Regions from separate parts of the Homo sapiens genome. Here region 2 is linked to region 1. The links come from fine-mapping of genetic effects on gene expression. A gene starts in region 1. The other region holds a variant in brackets. All regions are shown on one strand. Distances are between the middles of the regions. Region 1 holds the start of RAPGEF3 (Rap guanine nucleotide exchange factor 3). Region 2 overlaps RPAP3 (RNA polymerase II associated protein 3).

What was found. PIP is the estimated chance that this variant, and not a neighbour inherited with it, causes the effect. A credible set is the group of variants that fine-mapping cannot tell apart.
Region 2: its variant is the best candidate, but not a certain one, in a credible set for the expression of RAPGEF3 in whole blood (TOPMed, PIP 0.85).

Annotation. Positions count from the first base shown.
Region 1 is chr12:47,756,548-47,762,081 of GRCh38, forward strand. RAPGEF3 (Rap guanine nucleotide exchange factor 3) reads right to left here and starts at 2,333. Exons shown (of 28, transcript NM_001098531.4): 1 at 2,004-2,333; 2 at 1,319-1,531. The coding sequence starts at 2,009. It also overlaps a transcript of SLC48A1 not described here. RefSeq lists enhancers at 1,544-2,212, 2,213-2,881 and a silencer at 2,153-2,502.
Region 2 is chr12:47,693,829-47,698,828 of GRCh38, forward strand. RPAP3 (RNA polymerase II associated protein 3) reads right to left here. Exons shown (of 17, transcript NM_024604.3): 4 at 3,769-3,891; 5 at 2,448-2,575. Among named protein-coding and RNA genes, the nearest start is that of RPAP3, 9.7 kb to the right of the region's middle. The variant T/C (reference allele first, on the strand shown) is at 3,060.

The DNA.
Region 1 (5,534 bases):
AGAGGAGCCCCTCATCTTGGTAGGTCTCAGTTTTTTCAACTCAGCCTCACTGTAAATGGCAGTTGGGCAAGGTAGGGGGAAGGAGGGAGAGGGTGGTGGTTATTCCACTCAAAAGGACTTGCCAATAAGAAGTGAACTCTCGGCTAGGCGCAATGGCTCATGCTTGTAATCCCAGTGCTTTGGGAGGGCGAGGTGGGCAGATCACGAGGTCAAGCGATCAAGACCATCCTGGCCAATATGGTGAAACCCCATCTCTACTAAAAATACAAAAATTAGCTGGGCGTGGTGGCGCACACCTGTAGCCCCAGCTACTCAGGAAGCTGAGGCAGGAGAATCACTTGAACCTGGGAGGCAGAGGCTGTAGTGAGCCAAGATTGCTTCACTGCACTCCAGCCTGGTGACAGAGGAAGACTCTGGTTAAAAAAAAAAAAAAGAAAGAAAAGAAAAAAGAAATGAACTCTCCCGGCCAAGCGCAGTGGGTCACGCCTGTAATACCAGCACTTTGGGAGGCCAAGGCAGGTGGATTGCTTGGGCCTAGGAGTTCAAGACCTACCTAGGCAACATAGCGAAACCTGGGTGGACACACGCAGTGGAGACATAACTGAATCTCAAGCTAAGCTACTCTATTTAGTCTGGATGGTTGGGGATAGCTTCTCTGCTGATTTGGATAGTACAGCCATTATCTTGCCTCCCAAATCCCACCATTCTTTCCCCTCCCTGCTCTCTCCTTCATTCTTTCAGGTCCAGAGATGTTTCTCACTAGCAAAGGGCACTTTGGTGATCTCAGATTCTCCAAATGTCTCAGAATCCTTCCCTGAGCCCCCCAAAGGCAGGTACCAAGCAGTGTCCACATGATCACCTCACCCTAAGACCAAAACGCAGAATTAGCACAGTTCAGTAACTCACTAAAGGAGAATGTTGCCACGGTGATGCACCCAGAACTGTAACCAAGCTTACCTCACTCCAACCCATTGACCCGGCCCCCATACCTCCCACCTCCACCTGGAAAGAACACACAAGTACCTAACTCAATGCCGGCTCACTGAGGTGACAGATAAACAACAAATCCCTTTCCCCTTCCCCCCATGCCCAAACAGAGACATTTGGGCAGAACACACACACAGACACACACACGTTGCAGCTGTGTGAGCCACCCACGCACACTGCAGACAAGCTTCCTGACCCAGTGTCCACGGCAGCTGTACCACTGTACACCCCCAGAGCAAGCTGGGCCACCAGCAGCATGCCAAGCCATGATCTAGGCCCCCCTCTAGCTCTGGTACTGGCCCTGGCACCTGGGCAGGTGAAAGGTACTCACCCAGCGCAGCCCCTGGATGCAGCTCGGACGCTGGTGCTCCAGCAGCAGCTGGTAGGAGCAGCTTCGGGGCCGGTGCATCCTTCTCAACACCATGTTGAGTAGTGTCCCCTCCGGCACCACGTCAGGGAGGGCTCCCACCCGCGGTGCTCCCAGAGCTGGGCTATCCTCCACAGCCAGGCCCACCTGCCAGCAGCTCTCACCTGGCCAGCCCACCTGTGACACGGGGAGGAAAGTGGACAGCCATGGGACACGACTGGGGCGGCTGGGCCACAGTACAACTGCCCCAGGCAGAACTACTTCCTTAGAGTCCTCTGGACTGGTCAGGCGGAGGTGCTGCAACCCTGCCAGGAGCTGGGGGGAGGAACAGGAAGACCTTCACTGGGGCCTGCCGGTCTGGCGCACTTAGGGGTCTCCAGCTGGCTCTTGGAAAAGATCAGGCCCTTCTTAGTCCTCTTTGGAATTCTGTCCCATCTCACTGCCCATGCCCCTGCAGGGATCTCCACTACCTCCCAGTATGAAGCTATAGATTCACTAGGTCTCCCAGAAATGCAGCTTCGGCTTAAACCCTTCTCCTCTCCTCCTCAGCCCTGACTAACCCTCCCTCTCCCACCCAAACTCCCCACCGTGTCAGCTTCCTCTCCCGCCCTCTCCTGCTCCTCCTCAACCCTGACCCCACCTTACCCACCTTCATGTTTCTTTTCAAGCTCGCACAGCCGTGCAGGCTCTAGCAAAAGGCTGGGGGGTCCCCAGCGACCCCCATCAGCTTTGATAAGGGGATCCGGAGGGTGCCAGTGGGTAAGTCCAGGTACAGTGAACTGGGCCAGTGCCTAGCTGGACTGGCTGCCAGGGCAGCAGGATGCAGGGCTCGGTGGAGAGGCTCCTCTTGGGTGAGTAGAGGGGTGGGGGCGTGGTGGGGGGACGCCACCCAGCCACCGGCGACAGGGAGCCCCGAGCCTGCGCCTTCGTCTCAGACGAAGGAGCCAGCTGGCACCGGGCGCTGAAGCAAGGCTGCGCTGGCACCGGTCCGGGCGGGAGCTGTCACACCCCCTGCGCTGCCCGCCCCCTTCCCCTCCCCAGGACTGGCGGAGGGGGCGGGGTGGAGGCGCCCTGCCTTACGGTAGAGGAATGCGTAGGGGAAGGGGGCCGGCACTGGCAGGCTTTGGAGTCCGCACCCGGGGGTACCAGAGTGGACATCCGCCTGAGCCCAGAGTATCCCCAGGGGGCAGGAGCGGCCCCGAAGTGTGTGGAGGAGGCCGCAACGGCCGGGGTGTCAGGGATCCGGCGGTGAGTGGCTGCACTGGCCGCCACGTGGCCGGGAGGAGAAATGCAAACAAGGAAACCGGGGAGAGCGGGGAGGGGGTGAGTCACTGCGGCCTCACCCGGGAGGGAAATCCGGGCTGGGGCCGCTTCCCGGCTGGGGGTGTCTGCCTCCTGTTTCGGTTCAGGGTCTCCAGCCGCCCGGGGGAGGGAATAGGCGGCTTTCCCGCGGGGAATCCCGCTGCCTTGCCTCCCACAGTTCCGTTCCCAGACCCACGCCCCACTGCCCCCTGCCCCAGCACACACACACCGGGAGCAGTTGAGGAAACTGAGGCTGGAGAGGAAGGACTGCTCTCCAGAACGGGTAGGGGCCCTAAGAGGAGATTGGGGTTGTGGCAGAGCTTCCAGGGGAGCAGAAGGTGTTCGAGTACCACGCCCCCTACCGCGCGCTCCCTGGTGGCCGGGTAGGTTGAGGCGGAGACCGGGCATTCCAGCGCCCTGCTAGGCAGGCTTGCTACCGAGGCTCCACGCCTCCCTGGGCCTCAGTTTCCACCACTGTGCAAATGGCCCAGCGCGGGCCTCTTCGCCCCACTCCTGAGAGGGTGGAGAGACAGTGGCCGGGGACAGCGACCCGTAATTCAGGACGATAATGAGGGTTTGGAAGGAGGTGAACGCCCCACCCCCAGCTTTTTAGGACTTTTTGCCCCTTCTCTTCCCTTTTCCCTTTGCTGTTGAGCCAGCCCAGACTGGGAAGAAGTATCTCTAAAAAGCCTATACCCCAATTTTGGGATGCCAAGCCCGCATCCTCCACCATGATTATTTTCTTGAAAGTGAGGAGAAGACTGGGAAGAGGTAGCTCTAAGAAGCCTATACTCCCAATTTTGGGATGCCAAGCCCCCATCCTCCACCAATTATTATTTTCTTGAAAGTGGGGAGAGAAATTTTAATTGTGATTAAAATCCCATTTTTAATGTATACATGTATAAAAAATGTTTCCCAGAAGCTTACTAAAATGCAGGCTCCGTCCCCAGCAATTCATATTCAATCCTATTGGCATGAAATGGAAAATCTGTATTTGGAACAAACACCCCAGGTCATCTGCTGTGTCCACACATTAAGAAACGCTGGTGGAGTTTTAAATGCCTCTCCGGGGAAGGAGGAAAGCCTGAGAATGAATCTGACCTCAGACCCAAATCCATTCAACGGAGTTCTGGTAATTTGGAAGAAGGAAGAGCAACCTGGAAACTGACAGGAAAGGATGACAAGTTGGGAGTCACAGGTATGCATGGGGAAGAGTTAGGGGGATGGAGTCATGAGTTTCGGGTTGCTGGGGCCAGTGCCCTGGCCTAGAAGTTCTTGCAGGAAGGCTTCCTGAGACTGGCAGTTGGGTCACAAAGGGGTCCCCTATTTCCTATTCTTGCTGCCCTTACTCTGGGCAGGTGGAAGATGCTGGGGAGTGAGGCAGGACACTTGTATACATTTCAGCAGAGCTACAAAATCTAATCATGTGCGGGCACTCTTTCAAGTGCTTTCCATGTGTTTAATCCCTGCCACGATCCTGTGAGGTATGTACTTCTGTTATCCTCACGTCACAGATGGGGAAACTGAGGCTCAGGGATATTAAGGAAATTGCCAAAGTCACACAGCTAGTAAATGGTGGAGCTGGGGCATGAATCCAGGTTGTCTGTCTCCACGTACTCACCATGGTATACTGCGTATACTCTGTATGTATTCTATTCTTCTAATGTAGACTAGACTGCCTAGGAGAGTCTACTCAAAAAAGGAAAATTGAGGCCGGGTGCGATGGCTCACGCCTGTAATCCCAACACCTTGGGAGGCTGAGGTGGGGGTGAATCATGAGGTCAGGAGTTCAAGACTAGCCTGACCAACATGGTGAAACCCTGTCTCTACTAAAAATACAAAAATTAGCCAGGCGTGGTGGCGTGCGCCTGGAATCCCAGCTACTCAGGAGGCTGAGGCAGGAGAATTCTTTCAACCCGGGAGGCGAAGGTTGCAGTGAGTCAAGATCATGCCACTGAACTCCAGCCTGGGCGACAGAGCGAAACTCCATCTCAAAAAAAAAAAAAAAAGGCAGGGGGGAAATCGAATATGTTTGTGTTGAGGTGTGGGGGAGCCTCAGGGAGCCAAGGATCACTCAAATCGGTGAAAATGAAACTGTCCCAACCCACTCCCCCACCTATGTTCCCCTTCAACACTACTCTTGCCTTTCTTTTTTCCATTTCTTTTTCATTCCCCCTCTCTGGGGAGATTGAGAAGAGGACCTGGGGTGATTACCTATTGGCTCCTAGCCTGGGGAGATCATAGGGAGTAGATCTTTTATGTGTCCCATTTCTAGCTTGTCCTACCTCTAACAGGCAAGGCCCCCAGCCTGCCATCAAAGCAGATGACGGGGCAGGTTTTTGCCTTCTCAGGATCCCTGGATGGGGACCCGACAGTAGAATTACTGCTCAGCAGATATTTGATCAAGGCTGAGGCCTAGAAGGGGCAGAGGACTGGGAATGTGTCTGAGGAACACATGCAAGCAAGATGGTAACAATCATGCCATGTCCTGGTACCGCCTCCACCCTCCTCTGACTGTCATTAAATGCTTGGCAGGTGTGTTAAGACAGATAAATAATAATAAGAATAGTCAACATGCACCAGGCCCTGTTCTTGATACTTTGTATATATTCACTGACTGAATTGTCACAACAACCCTATGAGATAAGGTTGTTATTTTTGTTATTCCATTTTACAGATGAGGGACCTGAGACACAAAGAGGTTAAATGACTTGCCCAAGGTCCCATACTAGGAAGTGGTAGAGCCATGAGTGACTCTGCCCAGGTGGTTTCTACCCTGTGTGCTTTACCACTCTGCAGTCCTGCCTCTGAAACATACTGACAGCTCCTATAAAGGGGGAAAAACTCATATCCACAGCCATTTGCCCACACCTTGGTA
Region 2 (5,000 bases), 63 kb before region 1:
TAAGGTGACTACGAGAGACCAACAAGAGACAAACAAACAAAACATCTAACAAAGACCTACCAAACACAGATGCAAAAAATTGTAAGACTGTTTTCAAAGACATTAATGACAATCTAAGTGGAGATATTTCACATTCATCTATAATAAAGTACAAAAACATACAATATGATTCTCTCCAGACTGATTTATAAATCTAATGCAATTCTAATCAAAATCCCAACAGGATATTTTAACGAATTTGGGAAGATGATTCTAAAAGTTATATTGATGAGTAAAAGTCCAAGAATACCCAAGACATTCCTGAATAATAAAAGGTAGGAGAATATGCAGTACACTAAATATTAAGACTTACAATTACAATGCTATAATAATTAAAGATAGTGTGGAATGGATGTAAGGACAGGCAACAGACCAGTGTAAAGAACAGAGATGAGAAAGTGATCTCGGCAAACATGACATATGACAATAGTAGCACGGCAGATCCACGGGGGAAAGTAGGGCTATTCCAAAAATAGAGCTGGAAAAACCTTCAGCATATGTGAAAACACCTAAATGTGAAAAGTAAATCTTAAAAATGTTTAGAAGAAATTAGAGGAGACTATTAGGAACTCAAGCAGCAAACTATTTTTTTGAACAAATCATTTTATAAAGTCCTAATCTTTTTAAAAAATCAAGAAGTTGAAATATATTAAAATTGAATGTTTCTATTCATTAAAATTCCATAAAGAAGATAAGCTACAAATTGAGAGAAGATAGTTATTATGGAAAAGACCAAAAGATTAGTTATCCAGAATAAAGAACTCTCAAAATAAATCAATAGGAAAAGCCCTAAAAAAAAAAATGGCCAAACACCAAATAGGCATTTCACAGGGAAAAAAAAGAAAAAAACAAAAATGGAAAATATATAAGATGCTTAACCTTACTAATAGTTGAGAAATGAAAACCTTACTAATAGCTGAGAAATGCAAAATGTCATTTCAAAGACACAATGAAATGCCATTTTACACCCACCAGATTGAAAACAATTAAGAAGCCCAATTATATCAATGTTGGTAAGGGTAGGAAATAGGTATTATTATACACTGCTAATGAGAATGTAAACTCATCCATTTACCTTTGTAACAACTGTGTAACAACAAACTACCTTTGCCATCATCCTGTGAAGCTGAACATCTACACATTTTATGACCCAACACCAAGAAACATGTACAAAAATGTTCATAGCATTGCTGAAATAAGGAAAGAAAGGACAGAAGGTGGGCAATAGAAAGAAAGAGGGACAGAAGGAGGGAAGAAAGAGTGGGAGGGAGAGAGAAAAAGAAAGGAAGAAAGGAACGAACCAACAATCCAGCAACACAAGAATAGACACATAATGGTATATTTCTAAAAAGAAATTATCCTATATAACAGTTACAATGAGAGCTCTAGAGCTATAAGCATCAAAACAAGAATGAATCATAAAAATATAATAAATAGGTGAGCCACAGAAAACTACACACAGTATGATATACTTTTAAGCTCAAAAATAAGCAAGATTATACTATATATTATTTAGGAACATATACATATATAATAAACCTTTTTTAAATCAAAAGGATGACAAATATATAATTCAAGATAGTGGTTAACTGGGAGGGAGGCAAGGGACAGGATACAGAAAGGAGCATCAAGGTAACTTCAAAAATAATGGTAATGTTCTGGTTCTTAAGTTGAGAGGGGTGCTTTATAGGCTTATTTTAAACTATTCTCTGTAATTTATGTATATGCTACATATATTGCAGATATCGAATATTATAAAATGTAAATATTCCCCTAATTTTTAGAGATTAATATCATGAGTTTCAAAGACATAAAAATGTTAAATAGTAAAAATTCAGATACCAATAAAATTTGTATTTCCAAATAATTAAAACAGTAAGAATGTCTTCCTTGATGGTGTTTATCTTTTTAAAAAACCCCTATGATAGGTTGGTTACCTGCATGTGATAAGACAATACCACATTTATATTCTTCCACATTATTTACTTTAAAAGTCAGTATGACTTAAAGACAAACAAATGTTGAAACATATTTTAAGTTTTCCATAATAAATGTTCTCTAGATTAAATAGTGGATAAATGGTTTTTCAAAATGACAGGATATTAATTTCTAAAAATATCCAACTAACTTTTTTAGCTTTGTGAATTAGAAAAGAACACTATTACTAAATCTTTAGAGGAATACCTCAGTAAAGTGAGCTATGGGAACAAGGTTTTAGCACCAGATGTTTAAAATGGCTTAAACAAAATAATTCAATAAAAAGGAGTGAGCTATAAGAATTTACAGTTGAAAAGAAAATGCAATACATTTTCAATCTGTCCTCCACACTTTATTCCACACTTTTTTTTAATAAGTCTCCATATATACATAAGACATTCACATTCACACACGTCACAGAAAGTCCTTACTTTTTCAGTCTAAAATATGCTGACGCTCTGTTCGTTGGCAACACGGGATTATATGGATCGGCATCCATGCCTTTTGTGTAGCAGTCAATTGCTTCATCATATTTTCCTTGTTTGAAGTATTTATTGCCCTGAAAGAAAATTATATAAAATGATCTTTTTTACAAATTCTGAAATTCACTACAGTTGACCCTTGAACGACCCAGGTTTGAAGTGCATGGGTCCACTTAAATGTAGATTTTTTTCAATAGAAGTCTACACCAAGTGTGCCTGCCTCCCCTTCCACCTTTTCCACCTCTTCTGCCTCTGCCACCCGAGAGAGCAAGACCAACTCCTCCCCTTCCCCCTCCTCAGCCTACTCAATATGAAGATGACAAAGATGAAGACTTTAGATCCACTTCTACACAGTGAAATATATTTATATAAATAAATACACATTCTCTTCCTTAAAATGTTCTAATAACATTTTCTTTTCTCTAGCTTACTTTTTTGTAAGAATACAGTATATAATACATATAACGCATAAAATTTGTGCTAATCAACTATTTGTATTATCCATACTGCTTCCGGTCAACAGTAAGCTATTAGTAGTTAAGTTTTTGGGGAGTCAAAAGT[T/C]ATATGCAGATTTTTTACTGCATGAGGCACTGACCCCACACTGTTCAAGGGTAACTGTACATGGTCACTGTATGGGTACAACCCAAGAGCCCAGGCAGAAAAATGAGTAAAATACCCAGCATTATACTCCTTATTGACAATGCCAACCTACAGAAATGTAACCAAAAAAAAGCATCAAGAGTTTAATCTGAAAAGAGTTCCACCTTTGTGAAAGTAATATAGCTGGTTTTATAATAATGAGGCATCCCTCAGGGAGATACTGAACATTCCAAAAAGTAACCAAAGATAGCCTTTGATACCCGGGAGTGGAATATAATATTTACGCCAAGAATCACACACTAATTTCAAGTTACTTCAATCTACTACTAAAAACACTGGACAACTCCAGGTACAGTCCAAGCATTTTACATAGAATAGTTCACTTACTACCCATAAGAACCCGTTGAGGTTGGTAATATTATCATTTTGCAGATGAGAAAACTGAAGTTCAGAAGTTTAAAGAACTTATCAGAGATTTGAACCCAGGTAATCTGGCTCCAGAGCATGTACTCCTAACCACCATGTTACAATGCCTCCAGAGAGGGATGTAGCCAAAAACAACATAAAGTTTAAACACGTACTAAAACTATGCTCAAGAAACTTTACGATCCACATGATTTTCAACATCTCCTGCTTACATGAAAAAAAACAAAACCTAACTAATTAGTACCTTTTCTTTTAAAACAAGAGCCTTTTGTGAATCTACATGAATCCCATCTTCTTCCGACTCTGATTCTTGAGACAGAGACTCATGGGTACTATCGTCTTTGTCAAGCTCATCAAGGATACGGTCCTAAAATCAAAAGACGGAAAACAGGGGTCATAATTATATGATTAGGAAAAAAAAGAAAAAAAGACATACTAAAAAAATACACTCAAATGAATGTAAATTGTTACAATCTAAGGACCTACAGCCTTACAAAGCAACCCAAATCTCTCATTGTTAAGATTATATCCAGAGAAAAAGATGCCTTAGCTTAGAAAACCAAGATCAAAACCAAAAATCTGACTTTGAACTCATAAAGCTAAGTCAACAGATTGTACAAATCACCCCTAAATCACGAACTATTAGCAGTTAGGTCTTATGGCTTAAAGGAAGTTTGCAAATAGCCCTAAACTAATATAATTAGCACCCAGTAGCAGAAAAAGTTTAAAAAAAAATTTTTTTCTTCCTTATTTTAAAACAAAAAACTGCTATTTTAAAACTGCTATTTTAAAACGAACAAAAAAAAGAGCACATTAACTCCTAATCTTCACAATAACCTATGAGGAAGGTATAATTACCCATGTTTTTCACTTGAGGGAACTGAAATGCAGAAGTTAGTTAACTCATTCAAGGTCACTCAGCTAGTAAGTGACCAAGTCTACTTCCTCCAAGAGCCCTCAATCGATATGTTATACTGTCTCTCGGTGTATTCCAACATATAGCTGCCTCTACTAAAGGAAAAATAAAAAATGTGCTAGTCCCACGATTCTCAATCTCTTTTGACTCACACTACTTTCATGGTAATAAATAATTTCATAGACCTCCACCAGAATTTTCCTCTTATTTTTTATATGATAAAACAATGATTTTTAGTAAGATTTTATTTTTATTTTATTTTTGAGACAGCATCTGGCTCTGTTGCCTAGGCTGGAGTGCAGTAGTGTGATGTCAGCTTACTGCAACCTCCATCTCCCGGGCTCCAGCCATCTTCCCACCTCGCTCTCCCAAGTAACTGGGACTATAGGCATGCACCACCATGCGCAGCTAATTTTTTTATTTTTTGTAGAGACGGGCTTTTGCCATGTTGCCCAGGCTGGTCTGGATCCTAAGCCCAAGCAATCTGCCCGCCTCAGCCTCCCAAAGTGTTGGGATTACAGGCGTAAGCCACCGTGACGACCATTAGAGTTCATTAAAGC